Regions from separate parts of the Homo sapiens genome. Here region 2 is reported to be linked to region 1. The links are microRNA targets in miRTarBase. Many come from high-throughput screens and were not tested one by one. Region 1 holds a microRNA gene; the other region holds the end of a gene's coding sequence.

The links. Region 1 holds the annotated microRNA hsa-miR-6752-3p (UCCCUGCCCCCAUACUCCCAG, at 3,912-3,932, opposite strand). A microRNA usually pairs through its seed, bases 2 to 8, with sites in the 3' UTR of a target mRNA and lowers its output. Matches are read on the target gene's strand: a 7mer-m8 pairs with bases 2 to 8, a 7mer-A1 pairs with bases 2 to 7 and ends in A, and an 8mer does both.
Region 2: miRTarBase lists OR1L8 as a target of hsa-miR-6752-3p. The part of its 3' UTR that is shown has no 7-base or 8-base seed match.

The regions. Positions count from the first base shown.
Region 1 is chr11:67,487,110-67,494,226 of GRCh38, reverse strand. MIR6752 (microRNA 6752) reads right to left here and starts at 3,982; the gene lies at 3,912-3,982. AIP (AHR interacting HSP90 co-chaperone) reads right to left here. Exons shown (of 6, transcript NM_003977.4): 2 at 7,042-7,117; 3 at 4,772-4,960; 4 at 4,013-4,189; 5 at 3,770-3,911; 6 at 3,124-3,439. The coding sequence ends at 3,234. PITPNM1 (phosphatidylinositol transfer protein membrane associated 1) reads left to right here. Exons shown (of 24, transcript NM_004910.3): 20 at 157-305; 21 at 390-539; 22 at 634-817; 23 at 1,165-1,293; 24 at 1,931-2,459. The coding sequence ends at 2,194. RefSeq lists enhancers at 6,803-6,882, 7,053-7,117.
Region 2 is chr9:122,561,616-122,568,732 of GRCh38, reverse strand. It overlaps OR1L8 (olfactory receptor family 1 subfamily L member 8), which reads left to right. Exons shown (of 5, transcript NM_001004454.2): 5 at 44-1,616. The coding sequence starts at 256. The coding sequence ends at 1,185. It also overlaps a transcript of OR1J2 not described here. Among named protein-coding and RNA genes, the nearest start is that of OR1N2, 12 kb to the right of the region's middle.

The DNA of each region.
Region 1 (7,117 bases):
CTGTCGCCTGGTCCCATGGCCCCATCTCCTGTCCTCGGAACAGCTCCTGGTCCCTGGTGGTTGTGCCCCTAGACCCACCCATCCCCGACGACAGCCCCGCCTCTGCCCACCTCCACGCAGGGCCCCCATTTACCTCCCGCCCCTTCTCCCCTCCAGGTGGATGTCTACATCATGACGCAGCCGCTGTCGGGCAAGTGGATCCACTTTGGCACCGAAGTCACCAATAGCTCGGGCCGCCTCACCTTCCCAGTTCCCCCAGAACGCGCGCTGGGCATTGGTGTCTACCCCGTGCGCATGGTGGTCAGGTGAGCGCGGCTGGCCGGGCCTCTGCGGGAGGGCTCCGCCAGGCCTCGCCCCGCGCCACTCACGCCCCGCCCCGTGGGCCGCAGGGGCGACCACACCTATGCCGAATGCTGCCTGACTGTGGTGGCCCGCGGCACGGAGGCTGTGGTCTTCAGCATCGACGGCTCCTTCACCGCCAGCGTCTCCATCATGGGCAGCGACCCCAAGGTGCGAGCTGGCGCCGTGGACGTGGTCAGGTAGGAGTTGCCACTGCCACCACCACCCATTTCACCGGGGTGACCGGCCCCTCACCCCTGGCCAGCGGAGCTGACCGCTGCCCCCGCCCCACAGGCACTGGCAGGACTCCGGCTACCTGATCGTGTATGTCACAGGCCGGCCGGATATGCAGAAGCACCGCGTGGTGGCATGGCTGTCGCAGCACAACTTCCCCCACGGCGTCGTCTCCTTCTGCGACGGCCTCACCCACGACCCACTACGCCAGAAGGCAATGTTTCTGCAGAGCCTGGTGCAGGAGGTGCGGCGGCTGGGGGAGGCTCCGGGTCCTGACCCCGCCCCCGCTCCCCCTTACCCTCCACCCCCGGATCGGCGGAGGCCCATCTGTTCCCAACTGGATCGGCCCGGGCCCTGCCTGACTGCAGCGGCCCGCTACGGTCCTGCTCCCCTAGTTTGAGGGGCCCCGTGTACTTAGGGGCAACTAGGGAGATGCAGCTGGTCCCGCCCCTGTCCCCGTGGGACTGGGACCTGTCTTCGCCTCCGTCTGCCTGGACCCACCCCCAGAACAATCTGGGGAAGCCCAACAGGCCCCGCCCCCAGCTGCACGGCTCCACCCCTGGGGCGGCTGATTGGCATCTCCCGCCACAGGTAGAACTGAACATCGTGGCCGGTTATGGGTCTCCCAAAGATGTGGCTGTATACGCGGCGCTGGGGCTGTCCCCGAGCCAGACCTACATCGTGGGCCGTGCCGTGCGGAAGCTACAGGCGCAGTGCCAGGTGAGGCCCAAGTGAAGGCCAGGAACAGGACCCCACCAGGGGGCAGGGCCCTCAGTCCCAGGCCTTGGGAACCACGGACTCTGGGGAAGATGTGAGAAGGCCTAACCGGCCTCCAGGGAACCTGGGATCCTCCGAGGACAAGGGCCATGAGCAGCTTGAGCTGCCAGCTGCCAGGCAAGCCAGAGGGGACAGCCCACACTGGAAAGTGCTCAAGACCCTAGGCGCTGGTTCCACTCGGCCATGGCTTTCCACTGTGACCTTTCTGAGCCTCAGCTTCCCATCTGTAAATGGAAATGATCATGGCACTGCCCATGTCAGCTTATGAAGATCACATCAACAGGCACAGGGCTGGGCACAAAGCAAGTGCTGGCTAAACATTGGCTGCTGTTATTTTTCCTCTAAGACCCCATTTTCCAGATGAGGAGACTGAGGCCCAGAGAAGGGCAGAGCTAGGAGCACAGCCAAGGTGCCCTGGCTCCCAGCCTGGGGTCCTATCTATTGAGAAGGCTTCAGCTCAGGCTGTGCCAAGCCTGCCACCAGTCCCCCAGCCTGCCTCAGGTGCCTCTGGAGGACCGTGGAGGGCAGCGTGTGGGCCCTTGGCCAGCACCCCCTCATCGCTGCCTACCTCTGCCCACAGTTCCTGTCAGACGGCTATGTGGCCCACCTGGGCCAGCTGGAAGCGGGCTCGCACTCGCATGCCTCCTCGGGACCCCCGAGAGCTGCCTTGGGCAAGAGCAGCTATGGTGTGGCTGCCCCCGTGGACTTCCTGCGCAAACAGAGCCAGCTGCTTCGCTCGAGGGGCCCCAGCCAGGCGGAGCGTGAGGGCCCGGGAACACCACCCACCACCCTGGCACGGGGCAAAGCACGGAGCATCAGCCTGAAGCTGGACAGCGAGGAGTGAGGCCCACACCAGCCTGGACCTGGGTTATTTATTGACACACCCAAGGGGCCCGAGGGGCTGCGTGTGGGAGGCTGGGGACCCAGACTTTTGGCCCCAGCGCTGGCCCCCCCAGCCCCACACCCTATATCTCCGTGTGCTCCTCGGTGTTACTTCCCTTTCATATGAGGGGACCCAGCGCCGGGGGGAGGGAGGAGGGCGTGGGCATGGGCGCAGAGGCTTTTCCAGTGTGTATAAATCCATGAAAATAAACGCCACCTGCACCCCACCCACTCACCCCATGCCTGGCATCACAGGGCAGCCAGCCCAGTTTCCAGTTCAACAGGGGACACTGATGTGCACAGAGAGGCCAACACACACCCAGGGCCATCCAGCTCACAGGCAGGGTCAGGATGGGGGCCTGGGCCTCAAAAGGTCGCACGAAACCCACGCCCAGGGCCATCCATGTCACAGGCAGGTCAGGATGGGGGCCTGGGCCTCAAAAGGTCTCACGAAGCGCTCGGCCCTCTCCTCTTTCTGGACAGTCAGCCCACCCCAGCCCAACCCGGCTCACCTCAGCCCCAGCGTAGCTTCTCATGGAAACCCTGCCCCCAGACACCGAGGCCAGGAGACCATGGGATCCGAGGCTGGAGTGGGAGGGCAGCACCAGGAGACTACCTCCCTCAGGTGCCCAGCTACCTAGCTTGTACCCACTTCATCTCCCCCTTAAGACTGTGGGCTCCTGGGGCGCCCCAGCCCTGGCCAGCGAGAGACACTTCCTTGGTGAAAGAGCTCATCGTAATTTCTCTAACAGGGACACCAGAGCCTCAGAGCTGGTGGGTGGAGGGGCTAGGATTTGAACCCTGATTCTTTGCCTCCCAACAGCCACCCAAGTACCAGGAATGCCAGGTGATGACCCGGCTCTCCCAGTGGAGCAGCTCAGCAGACTCAGAGAGAGATAAATAAAGGCCTTTATATACACAGAAGCATGACGCAGCACGGGCAGGGGGGCTGGCAGCTGCAGCAGTGGGCTTGGCAGGTAAGGCAGGGCCAAGTGCTCCTGTCAATGGGAGAAGATCCCCCGGAACCGGGCTTTGTCCTCTTCGTCCTTCTGCCGGATCCGTGCCTCCAGGGCCCGCAGCTCTCGGCTCACCACAGGCGCCAGGGCTGGGTCCAGCTCCAGCACTTTGGCAAAGTCAGCCTGGGCCTCCTGGGCATTCCACACGGCCGCGTGGGCCTTGCCCCGCTTGAAGTAGGCCTTGACGTTGTCTGCAGGGGAGGCCAGTGGGCAGTGGGCATGCAAGGGCATGAGGGGGGATCCTGGCCAGCTGCCTGCCCTCATGTCTCCTGGCACCATGGGCCCACAGGGGAGAGAGAGCCCTCCCTGACCTGAGGATGCCACCCCACCCCCAATACACCATTCATGCTTCATTGGCACAATGGGGCCCACAGCCCTGCCGAGTAGAGGCATTTAGTCAGGCCCCCGTGGGAGCTCAGAATGGGGGTTGTGAAAGGCTAGGTCTTGACCCCAGCAGTGACAGGAGAAAGGCCACTCTCTGACCACTCGCAGCCCCCGGCAGCCCAGGGCCCGGTGCTCACCGTCGTACTTGTTGAGGATGGAAGAGCAGTGGTCCAGCACCTCGTAGTACTCCTCGACCACCAGCTTGCACTGGCAGTAGTTGAGCAGCAGCGGCGTGATCTGCTGGTCCAGCTGGATCCATTCAGGGGACCCAGGCTGTTCCTGGGAGTATGGGGGCAGGGAGCGGGGAGAAGCTGTAGACCTGGGCCCCCTGGCTCCACACCCCCCTCCATCCATCCTCCCCCTCAGCCTCCAGGCAGTACCTTCATCTGCAGGTTCTTGAGGCAGGCAATGGCATCGTAGTACTTGGCAGCAGCCTCCTTCACATGCCCCTCGCGGTACAACCGGTTGCCCTCCTGGTGGATAAGTGGCACTGCCTTTGCCTTCTCTTCGTCTGTCATGGCCCATGGGTCCTGCTGGTACGTGCCAGGGCTCTCCACCTGCAGGGCATGGGGCATATCACAGCGGGGCTCGGGGACACCACAGCTGCGTCCGTCAGCAGCAGACCTGACCCACATCTGGGCTGGCTGGGCCCCCAGACATCACACACCAGCAGCAGAGCTACTTGTCACTCAAAAAGCATCAAACATCGATGTCACATCTCCTGTGTGCCCAGCACTGTGCCAAGTGCTAAGAATAGAACAGTGAACAAGACGGTGAAAAGCCCTGCCCTCGCAGAGATCATGCTGCATGGCAGGTTCCCTAAATGGACAAGGAAATCCATGAATTCCAAGGGACTTCAAGGTGCGGCAGAGGCTATAAAGGAAATGAGCTGCTGCGAGACAGAGAATGAGGAGACCGGGTGGGCAGGGCCGGTTTCCTGGAGGAGGTGACATTTGAGATGTGAAGGAGGAGGAAAGGAGACCCAGGGTACTGCCAAGGGTCCTGCACAGGTTTTCTTGTCTCTGTCCGCTCCCCCAGCAGTCCACCTGCGGATCCCACCACCCCTGGGTGGACAGGCCAGCGCCGCCCTGAGGCTGGGCAGTGGGGGCCTGGTGAGACCAGGCGCGGTGGCCCCTCACCTTCAGCATCTCCATGTGGAAGATGAGGGGCTGGGGGTTCTGCTGCAGGGCGTCCAGGTCAGCATGGCCCAGGGAGCTGTGTTCACGCATCTGTGCAACACCGCAGCAGTGCCGCTGGCCCTCCAGGGGGTCCTTGCCCACCGCGATGTTGCGGAGACTCTTGGCCACCAGCGGGTACAGGACCACATGCTGCGGGAAGGCAAGGGCGCCGGGGGCTCTGTCACCGTGGGCTGGCTGGTCACCGGGTCCACAAGGCCCAGCCCCCTTCCCCACCACCATCTGAGAACAAACACCAAGGCCCAGAGAGTGACAACTGGGACCCTACTCCGTTTAAGCACAGGAGGCTTTTAATTCAGGACTCCTCCAGTCGCTCAGCCCTCTCTCCTGGTGAAGCCCCAGCTTCTGCCACATTCTCTGGCCACCAAACAGAGCACCTAACCCCCTCCTCACCCCCACCACAGACACATGCCTACCATCAACCCCTGTCTCCCTGGTCCTTACAGGCCCAGTAGAATTCTTACCTCCTCTCCCTCCAGAGGATAAGGCCCTTTGCTGGACTATGCAAAGAACTGGGGCCCCCCACATTCTGTTCCCAGCAGCTCCTCCTTCTGCCCCACCCACACCCCACTGAGGGCCTACCTCAGAGCTGGGCCCAGGCCAGCCACTTCAAAACCCTCAGGGAGGCCGGATGTGGTGGCTCACGCCTGTAATCCTAGCACTTCGGGAGGCCAAGGCGGGCGGATCACCTGAGGTCAGGAGTTCAAGACCAGCCTGACCAACATGGTGAAACCGCGTCTCTGCTAAAATACAAAAATGAGCCGGGCACGATGGCAGGTGCCTGTAATCCCAGCTACTCAGGCAGCTAAGGCAGAGAATCAGCTGAACCCAGGAGATGGTGGTTGCAGTGAGCCAAGATCACGCCACTGCACTCCAGCCTGGGCAACAGAGTGAGACTTAGTCAAAAAAAAAAAAACCCCACAGGGAGACAGGCATAGGGGACCTAGCCTCTAATCTCTTGCTTGGCAAAGCTGCTAGGCTGGTGGGAACCAGATAACCAGATTCCTCCTACCCGGGTCCTCCCCACTCCTCCCACTGCCCTGTTGTCTGGACAGGGGCTGACTGCCGGGCTGCCATCAGCGGGCATTTCCTGAGTCTTGGCTCTGGACTGGCTCGCGCTGGGCATCCCAAAGCTAGAAGTAAACAGGCCAGATCCCTGCTCTGCAATAGCCTAGGACAAGGCAGAAGAGCAGATCCTGGCCATGCAGGGCATGAGGGTTGGAGGACCCAAACATGGGAGTTGAGCCAACCACTAGCAGTCAGGGAGGGCTTCCTAGAGGTGGTGACCCAGGAATAAGCTTTGAAGGAAGAGGGAAGATCTTGGCTAAGAAGGGGAATGGAAAGGAAAAGCAGGGAGGTTGAGTAAGAGGGTGAGACGGCAGGGGCCAGCCCCCAAAAAGCTATGTGAGCAGCTATAGCTTATACGGTTTAAGTCCTCACTTAACGTCCTAAGTAGGTTCTTGGAAACTGTGACTGTAGGCGAAACAATACATAACGAAACCAATTTTTCTTCTCATCAATGTTCTAACAAAATTTTGCTGAGAGAAATGACGGTGGCTGAGAAAAAACCTGATGTATGTTTTTTCTCTTAGTCACAGTTTCCAAGAATGTATCAGCAACATGAAGTGAGGACCCCCTGTGCTCTATCCTTACAGTGACCAGGAGTCATAGAGGTTTGAAACAAAGGGATGTACAGGTCATTTGCATTTGAGAACGAGTCCCCTGGCCTCAGTCTGGCTAATAGGGGAAGGCGGAATGGAGGCCAGGACGCCATCAGCAGGCTGGTGTGGTGGTCTGGAAAGAGTGGGTGGGCCGGGCGCGGTGGCACACGCCTATAATCCCAGCACTTTGGGAGGCCAAGGCGGGTGGATCACCTGAGGTCAGGTGTTCAAGACCAGCCTGGCCAACATGGTGAAACCCTGTCTCTACTAAAAATACAAAAATTAGCCAGGCATCATGGCGGGTGTTTGTAATCCCAGCTACTCGGGAGGCTGAGGCAGAAGAATCGCTTGAACCCAGGAGGTGGAGGGTGCAGTGAGCTGAGATCGTACCACTGCACTCCAGCCTGGGCGACAGAGCAAGACTCCATCTCAAAAAAAAAAAGAAAGCGGGTGGCAGTCTAGCAGAGGGTGGAGGGAGGAGGAGCCCTGGGGATAGGGAATAGGAATAGGGCTTGGCTGGACAGCCACCGCAGACAGGTACAGGACAGACACCTTGATGTCACAGAGGAACTGGGCAATCTCCCCTTCTCGCATGGTGCACACGATGGTCTCCCACACAGGCAGCTTG
Region 2 (7,117 bases), not on the chromosome of region 1:
TTCTGAAAGTTTCTAAAGGAAAACTCTCCCTCTGTCCCTCCAGATTTCAATATAATGCCCTTATGGAGCCCATAGATTTGGGAAGGGAGGACCCCATCAAGGACCATGAGGTGAACAAGCCATCCCACAATTAGCACAGTAGCTAATTGTGACCAAACAGAAGAAACAAAGACTTGCTAGGTTCTCATGATTGGTGTTATGAAATCAGAGCATGTTAAATGACAAAACTTCTTGTTTATAACTGAGCCCAAGTCAATGGAAAGAATCAACCACACCAGCAGTGTCTCCGAGTTTATCCTCCTGGGACTCTCCTCCCGGCCTGAGGACCAAAAGACACTCTTTGTTCTCTTCCTCATCGTGTACCTGGTCACCATAACAGGGAACCTGCTCATCATCCTGGCCATTCGCTTCAACCCCCATCTTCAGACCCCTATGTATTTCTTCTTGAGTTTTCTGTCTCTCACTGATATTTGCTTTACAACAAGCGTTGTCCCCAAGATGCTGATGAACTTCCTGTCAGAAAAGAAGACCATCTCCTATGCTGGGTGTCTGACACAGATGTATTTTCTCTATGCCTTGGGCAACAGTGACAGCTGCCTTCTGGCAGTCATGGCCTTTGACCGCTATGTGGCCGTCTGTGACCCTTTCCACTATGTCACCACCATGAGCCACCACCACTGTGTCCTGCTGGTGGCCTTCTCCTGCTCATTTCCTCACCTCCACTCACTCCTGCACACACTTCTGCTGAATCGTCTCACCTTCTGTGACTCCAATGTTATCCACCACTTTCTCTGTGACCTCAGCCCTGTGCTGAAATTGTCCTGCTCTTCCATATTTGTCAATGAAATTGTGCAGATGACAGAAGCACCTATTGTTTTGGTGACTCGTTTTCTCTGCATTGCTTTCTCTTATATACGAATCCTCACTACAGTTCTCAAGATTCCCTCTACTTCTGGGAAACGCAAAGCCTTCTCCACCTGTGGTTTTTACCTCACCGTGGTGACGCTCTTTTATGGAAGCATCTTCTGTGTCTATTTACAGCCCCCATCCACCTACGCTGTCAAGGACCACGTGGCAACAATTGTTTACACAGTTTTGTCATCCATGCTCAATCCTTTTATCTACAGCCTGAGAAACAAAGACCTGAAACAGGGCCTGAGGAAGCTTATGAGCAAGAGATCCTAGGAAGCACCCTCTTGAAAAACTCGTAAGTGGAATCTGCTCAACTTGGACGTGTTTTCTACTGGTTTCTGGTGAACAGTCAAAGCTGTTGGAAGCTAGCACTTCTGACCCATGTGAGACAAGGCTATTGTGGGCACTTACATCCATTGATGATGACCCAACAATTCGGCCTGTATCTCTTAAATCACAATCGTTTCCTGTCTGTGTCTCCTCTTTCTTGGAAAGATTTATTTTTTCCACTTTCTCATTTTCCAAAAACTGCTTTAATCTAATCCTTTCCCCATGAATATTTCCTAAACAAATTTCTCTCCTTTTATTAAGGCAGATCCTCCAAAATTCTTCACATTTCAATATATTGCTGAAAAATGTGTAATTTGTAGCCATTGAATGTTTTTGCAAAAAAATTGAAAAGAGAAAGAATGAAGGAAGAGGAGGATATATATTTTAGCTAATTTTCTCTTCTTGAGAATTTTTATAATTTTTTATTTTTCTCCTTCTAAAAATGTTTTATTGCTTAAATCTTAAGCTTTTACTTTTTTATCTTTCTATCCTTCCTTTATTATACTGCTGTAGTTTTATTTACTTTTAATTTCCTCTTATATTTTATCATACAATTTAAAAATGCTAATGGTCAGAAAGAACAAAAACCACAAGGGATAACATGGAAATTATCCATTTCACACAGGGGAGGTTGAAACATTTCTTCTGGTTCACCTTCCCATAAACTATGTGTTTAAAATGTGTGATTTAATACTTCGTCTAGAAACTGTCATTTCTAGGACTCTAGCCTATAGAAATATTATTATAAATTTGTATTGAGTAATATTATTGTAAATGTGTATTGAATATTGTGAGATATATGTATATATAATCTCCAAAGATGTTCAGGGAAATCCCAGTTTATAATAGGTAAAAATGGCAACAACCTAAAACCTTTTCAATAGGGAAATGGAGAAAGATGCTATGACTAATTCCATAAAGTGTAACTATATGCAGCATGTTCAAAGAATCAAATATATCTTTACTGCTTCCTTGAAAAGCCATTAAGTAAGAAAATTAAGATATGGAACAAATGTAAAAGTATGAATCCATTACATTAAAACATTATATAAATATGAATGTACATATGTGTGTAGCCACTGGGGTAAGAATGGAAGGGCAGGGGGAAACATGGAGGGAGAATATTTCCTCATCTTTATACACAGTTGTAATGTCTGAATTTCTTCAAATAAACATTTATTGCCAATGGAATAGAAAACTATTAATAAACAAGATGACCTATGCAATGGTGAAAGACTTCATAAATTACCAGTTGAAGAAAAACTTTCTGAGTGCATGCATATCTAAAAACACGATTTTGGCACGTTTACTTTAGTAGACAATTTGATAATTTGATAGGATGCAGCATTCTAGGTCCAAAGCTTTTCTTTCAGATCTTTTAAAGATACATCTATATTATTCCAATGCCTCGGGTGTTTTCAGTGATAAATAAGAGGTCACCCTAATTTGTGTTCCTTTGTAATGATTTCCTTCTCATTGGATCATACTCCATAGATCCCTAACACCAAACATGGCTATGCTGCCACTGCTTAGGCCTTGGAAGAGCAGACCCTGATTCCACCTACTTTACTCCAAGCCTGAGTTTAGGAGTCCAGTCATTGTTCTTGACTGTGTGTATTCTCATGGGTGTCAACATGTAACAAAAAGGTAAAAAATAAAATACTAGGCAAACAGTTCTTAGAGTTGAAATCAAAAGCAAAGAGCATGATCCATAAAAGGAAAAATTTTAAAGTTGAACTTCATAAAAATTAAACTACTAGAAGGTGAAGGTGGGGAGAAGGTAAGTTAAAAACTACCTGTCAGGTATTATGCTCACTACCTGGGTGACGGGATCCATACTTCTTCTATGACAGAAGCAGACTAATGTAATCAACATACCACCAAGTAATTGGCTAATCACCCTTGGGAATGGTGCCATTGGGGGGCTCAGCGTTGGTCTCTGCTGCTGGCAGACTGGGCACTCAAAGGTGGCAGTGGCCAGGTCAGCCCTGGTTAGTGGGAGTACATGCTGCTGAACCCATACATAACCTCCATCCCTGCCGCCATGGCCATTTTGTTCATGAGCCCATTGGGCGATGACAGTGGTGGCTGGGGAAAGAGACTCACTGGTATCCACAAAACGGGTCATCCTATCCACTTATTAAAACCTCCCCTTCTGAGGTCATGCTTTGGTGAGTATTTACATGGGACACAGATATCTTCATATCTTTGCCCATTCATAGAGGTCTATTCACATTGCTCTTCCCCAGGTATCTTTGTCATCAATTTTCCAATCATGTTGCTTCCAAATCCCTGATCACCCAGAATGTGTTTCCTCTAAAATCCAAATAGATGCACCAGGCATAGTGCCTCTCTCTTGGGTGTAAGAGGGGCCAGACACCTATCCTTCACCTTAAAAGGGCTATCTGGACAGGTCTCACACCACTGGACCCTATAAATTTCACGAGGAAGTATAAGTCCCTTGAATTTTAGCCAGATTTATTTGTACTTTTTGACACACAAATGTCCTACCAATGAGTTCAGACTCACTAGGTCTAATTGGCACAATGTTATCAATATAATGGACCAGTGTGGCATCTTGTGGAAGGACAAGTGGTCGAGAATTCTGTGAACTTGATTATGACATGGGGCTGCAGAATTGATATACTCCTGAGGTATGACAGTTAAGGTGTACTGCTGGCCCTGCCAGCTGAAAGCAAGCTGCTTCTGGTGGGCATTACAGACAGGGATGGAGAAAAAGTCATTTGCCAGATCAATAGCTACACACCAGGTACCAGGAAATGTTAATTTGCTCAAGCAGTGAAACCACATCTGGTACAGCAGCTGCAATTGGAGTCACTGCTTGGTGAAGCTTATGATAATCCACTGTCATTCTCCAGGATCCATCTATCTTCTGCACAGGCCAAATAGGAAAGTTAAGCAGGGATGTGGTGGGGATCACCACCCCTGCATCTTTTAAGTCCTTGATGGTGGCACGAATCTCTGCAATTTCTCCAATGATACAACACTACTTTTCATTTACTATTTCCCTAGGTAGAGGCAGCTCTAATGGCTTCCATTTGGCCTTTCCCATCATAATACCCCCCCACTCCACAAGTCAGGAAACAAATGTGGGGATTCTACCAGGTGCTAAGTATGCCTATTCTAATTATGCATATTAGAATTGGAGAAATAACCACAGTTGCACTGGGGACATAACCACAGTTAGAATTGAGGAAATAACCACAAGATGGGTTTTGGGATCGAGTGGACACACCGTAAGTTGGATCTGAGCTAAAATTTCATTAATCACATGACCCCCATAATTGCCTACTCTAACTAGAGGGCAACAGTGATGTTTCGTGTCTCCTGGAATCAACATCAGTTGAGAGCCAGTGTCCAGTAGTCCCCAAAAGATCAGATCATTTCCCTTTTCCCAATGCACAGTTACCTTGGGAAATGACAGGAGGCATCACACTACCTGACTTCAAAACATACTATAAAGCTATAGTAACTGAAACAGCATGGTCATAAATACAGACATATGGATAATGAAACAGAATAGACAACCCAAAAATAAATCATGTATCTATAGCCAACTGATTTTTGACAAAGGTGTGAAGAATACACATTGGGAAAAGCACAGTTTCTTCAATATATGATGTTATAAAAACTGAATATGTGTATGCAAAAGAATAACTAGATCTCTATCTCTTACCACATACAAAACTCTGCTCAAAAGAAATTAACAACTTGACTGTAAGACCTGAAACTATGAAAATACTAGACAAAGCCATAGGGGAAATGCTTTATGACATTGATCTGGCTAAAGATTAATTGGATAAGACCTTAAAAGCATAGACAACAAAAGCAAAAATAGACAAATGGATTTACATAAAACTAAATTGCATCTGCGCAGCAGAGGAAACAATCAACAGAGCAAAGAGACAACCTACAGGATGGGAGAAAATATTTGCAAACTATGCATCTGTCAAGAGGTTAATATGTGGAATATATAAGAAACTCAAATGTCTCGATAACAACAAAAAAACAAATAAATGATTTTAAAAATGGAGAAAAGACCTAAATAGATATTTCTTAAAAGAAGACATCTATATGGTCAACAAGCTTATGGAAAAATGCTCAGTATCACTAATCATTAGGGAAATGCAAATCAAAATCACAATGAAATATACAATAAATTATTGTTAACTATACTATGATGTATCCATAAAATTTAAAAATAAAAACAAACTTTTTAAAAACACAATGAGATATCACCTCATCCCAGTTAGAATGGCTATTATCAAAGAGACAAAAAAAAAAATAACAAATGCTAGTGAGGATGTGGAGAAAGGGGAGCACTTATACACTGTTGGTGAGAATATAAATTAGTACATCCATTATGGTCAACAGTGTCAAGATTCCTCAAAAAATTAAAATATATCTACCATATGATCCAGTAGTCCCACTACTGGTTATATATCCAAAGGAAAAGAAATAAGTACGTCAAAGAGTCATCTGCACCCTCAAGTTTATTACAGCACTATTTACAACAGCCAAGATATGGAATCAACCAAAATGTCCATCAGTGGATACACGGATTTTTTTAAGTGCTATATGTGCACAATGGAACACCATGCAGCCATAAAACGAATAAAATCATTTTTATTCTTTTGTGGCAGCATGGATGAACCTAGTCGACATTATGTTAAATAAAATAAGCTAGGCACAGAAGGACCAATACCCATATTCTCACTTATTTGTGGGATTTTTAAAAAGTTGAATTCAGAAAACAACCAAAACAGCATGCGAACCCTGCAACGGCAACCAAGGTATCCAGGTGCTGTCACCAGGACTGACTAGGCAGTTGGTATGACACACGGAGAGGAAGGAAGTGCAGTGTGGTGTGGCAGCCCACCTGAGAGCCACACAGGGCAGGGGAGTCCCCACCCACCAGCCAAGGGAGGTGGTGAGTGAGCGTGCTACCCAGCCTGGGAAACCATGCTTTTTCCACAGAACTGTGCAACCCACAGATCAGAAGATCCCACTTGAGAGCCCCTGCCACCAGGGCCTAGGGTCCCAACAACAGAGCTACGCAGATTCTCAATAGCCACTCAGCTAGAATCTGCTTAAGCCTGCTGACTTCCTGGGAGGAGTTGCAGCCATCACCACAGCTGCAACTGCCTGCTGCCTAAGCTGTCTAAGCTCCCTGCGGGAGGGGCAGCAGCCAACACTGGGACTGCTAGCTGCCTAACACACTAAGCTCCCATGGCGGGGGAAGGGCGGCAGCCATCTCTATAGCTCCAGGTCACTATTTTCCCCTGCCGAGCCAGGGAGACTTGGTGGCAAGAAATATTCCCCACAGCCAAACACACCGGCTGTGGCAGACTGCAGCCAGAGTGCCTCTTCAGGCAAGACCCTGACCCATCCCTCCTCACTGGGAGGGCCTCCCTGCAGGAACTCCAACAACTCCCGCCAGGGGCTCAAGGACAGAACTCTCATCTCCCTGGGCCTGAGCCCCTAGTAGAAGGGGTGGCCATAGTCTCCACGGACCAGCAGACTTAGTTTTTCCTACTGCTAGTTCTGAGGAATCTGGGCAGCCCAGATGAGTAAGTTTCCCTCCAGCACAGCATACCCCCTCCACCAAGGGACAGCCAAAGTGCTTCATTAAATGGGTCCTGCTCCCAGTGCCACCAACTGGGTGAGACCCTGCAACAGGGGTTGTCAGACATTTTATACAGAAGCATTCCTGCTGGCATTAGGTCGGTGCCCCTCAAGGTCAGCGATACCAATGGAAGGAGCAGGCACCCATCTTTACTGTTCTCCAGCTTCCCCCAGTGACATCTCCAGGTGCAGGAGTGAACCAGATGAATAAGGCCTGAAATGAACCCCC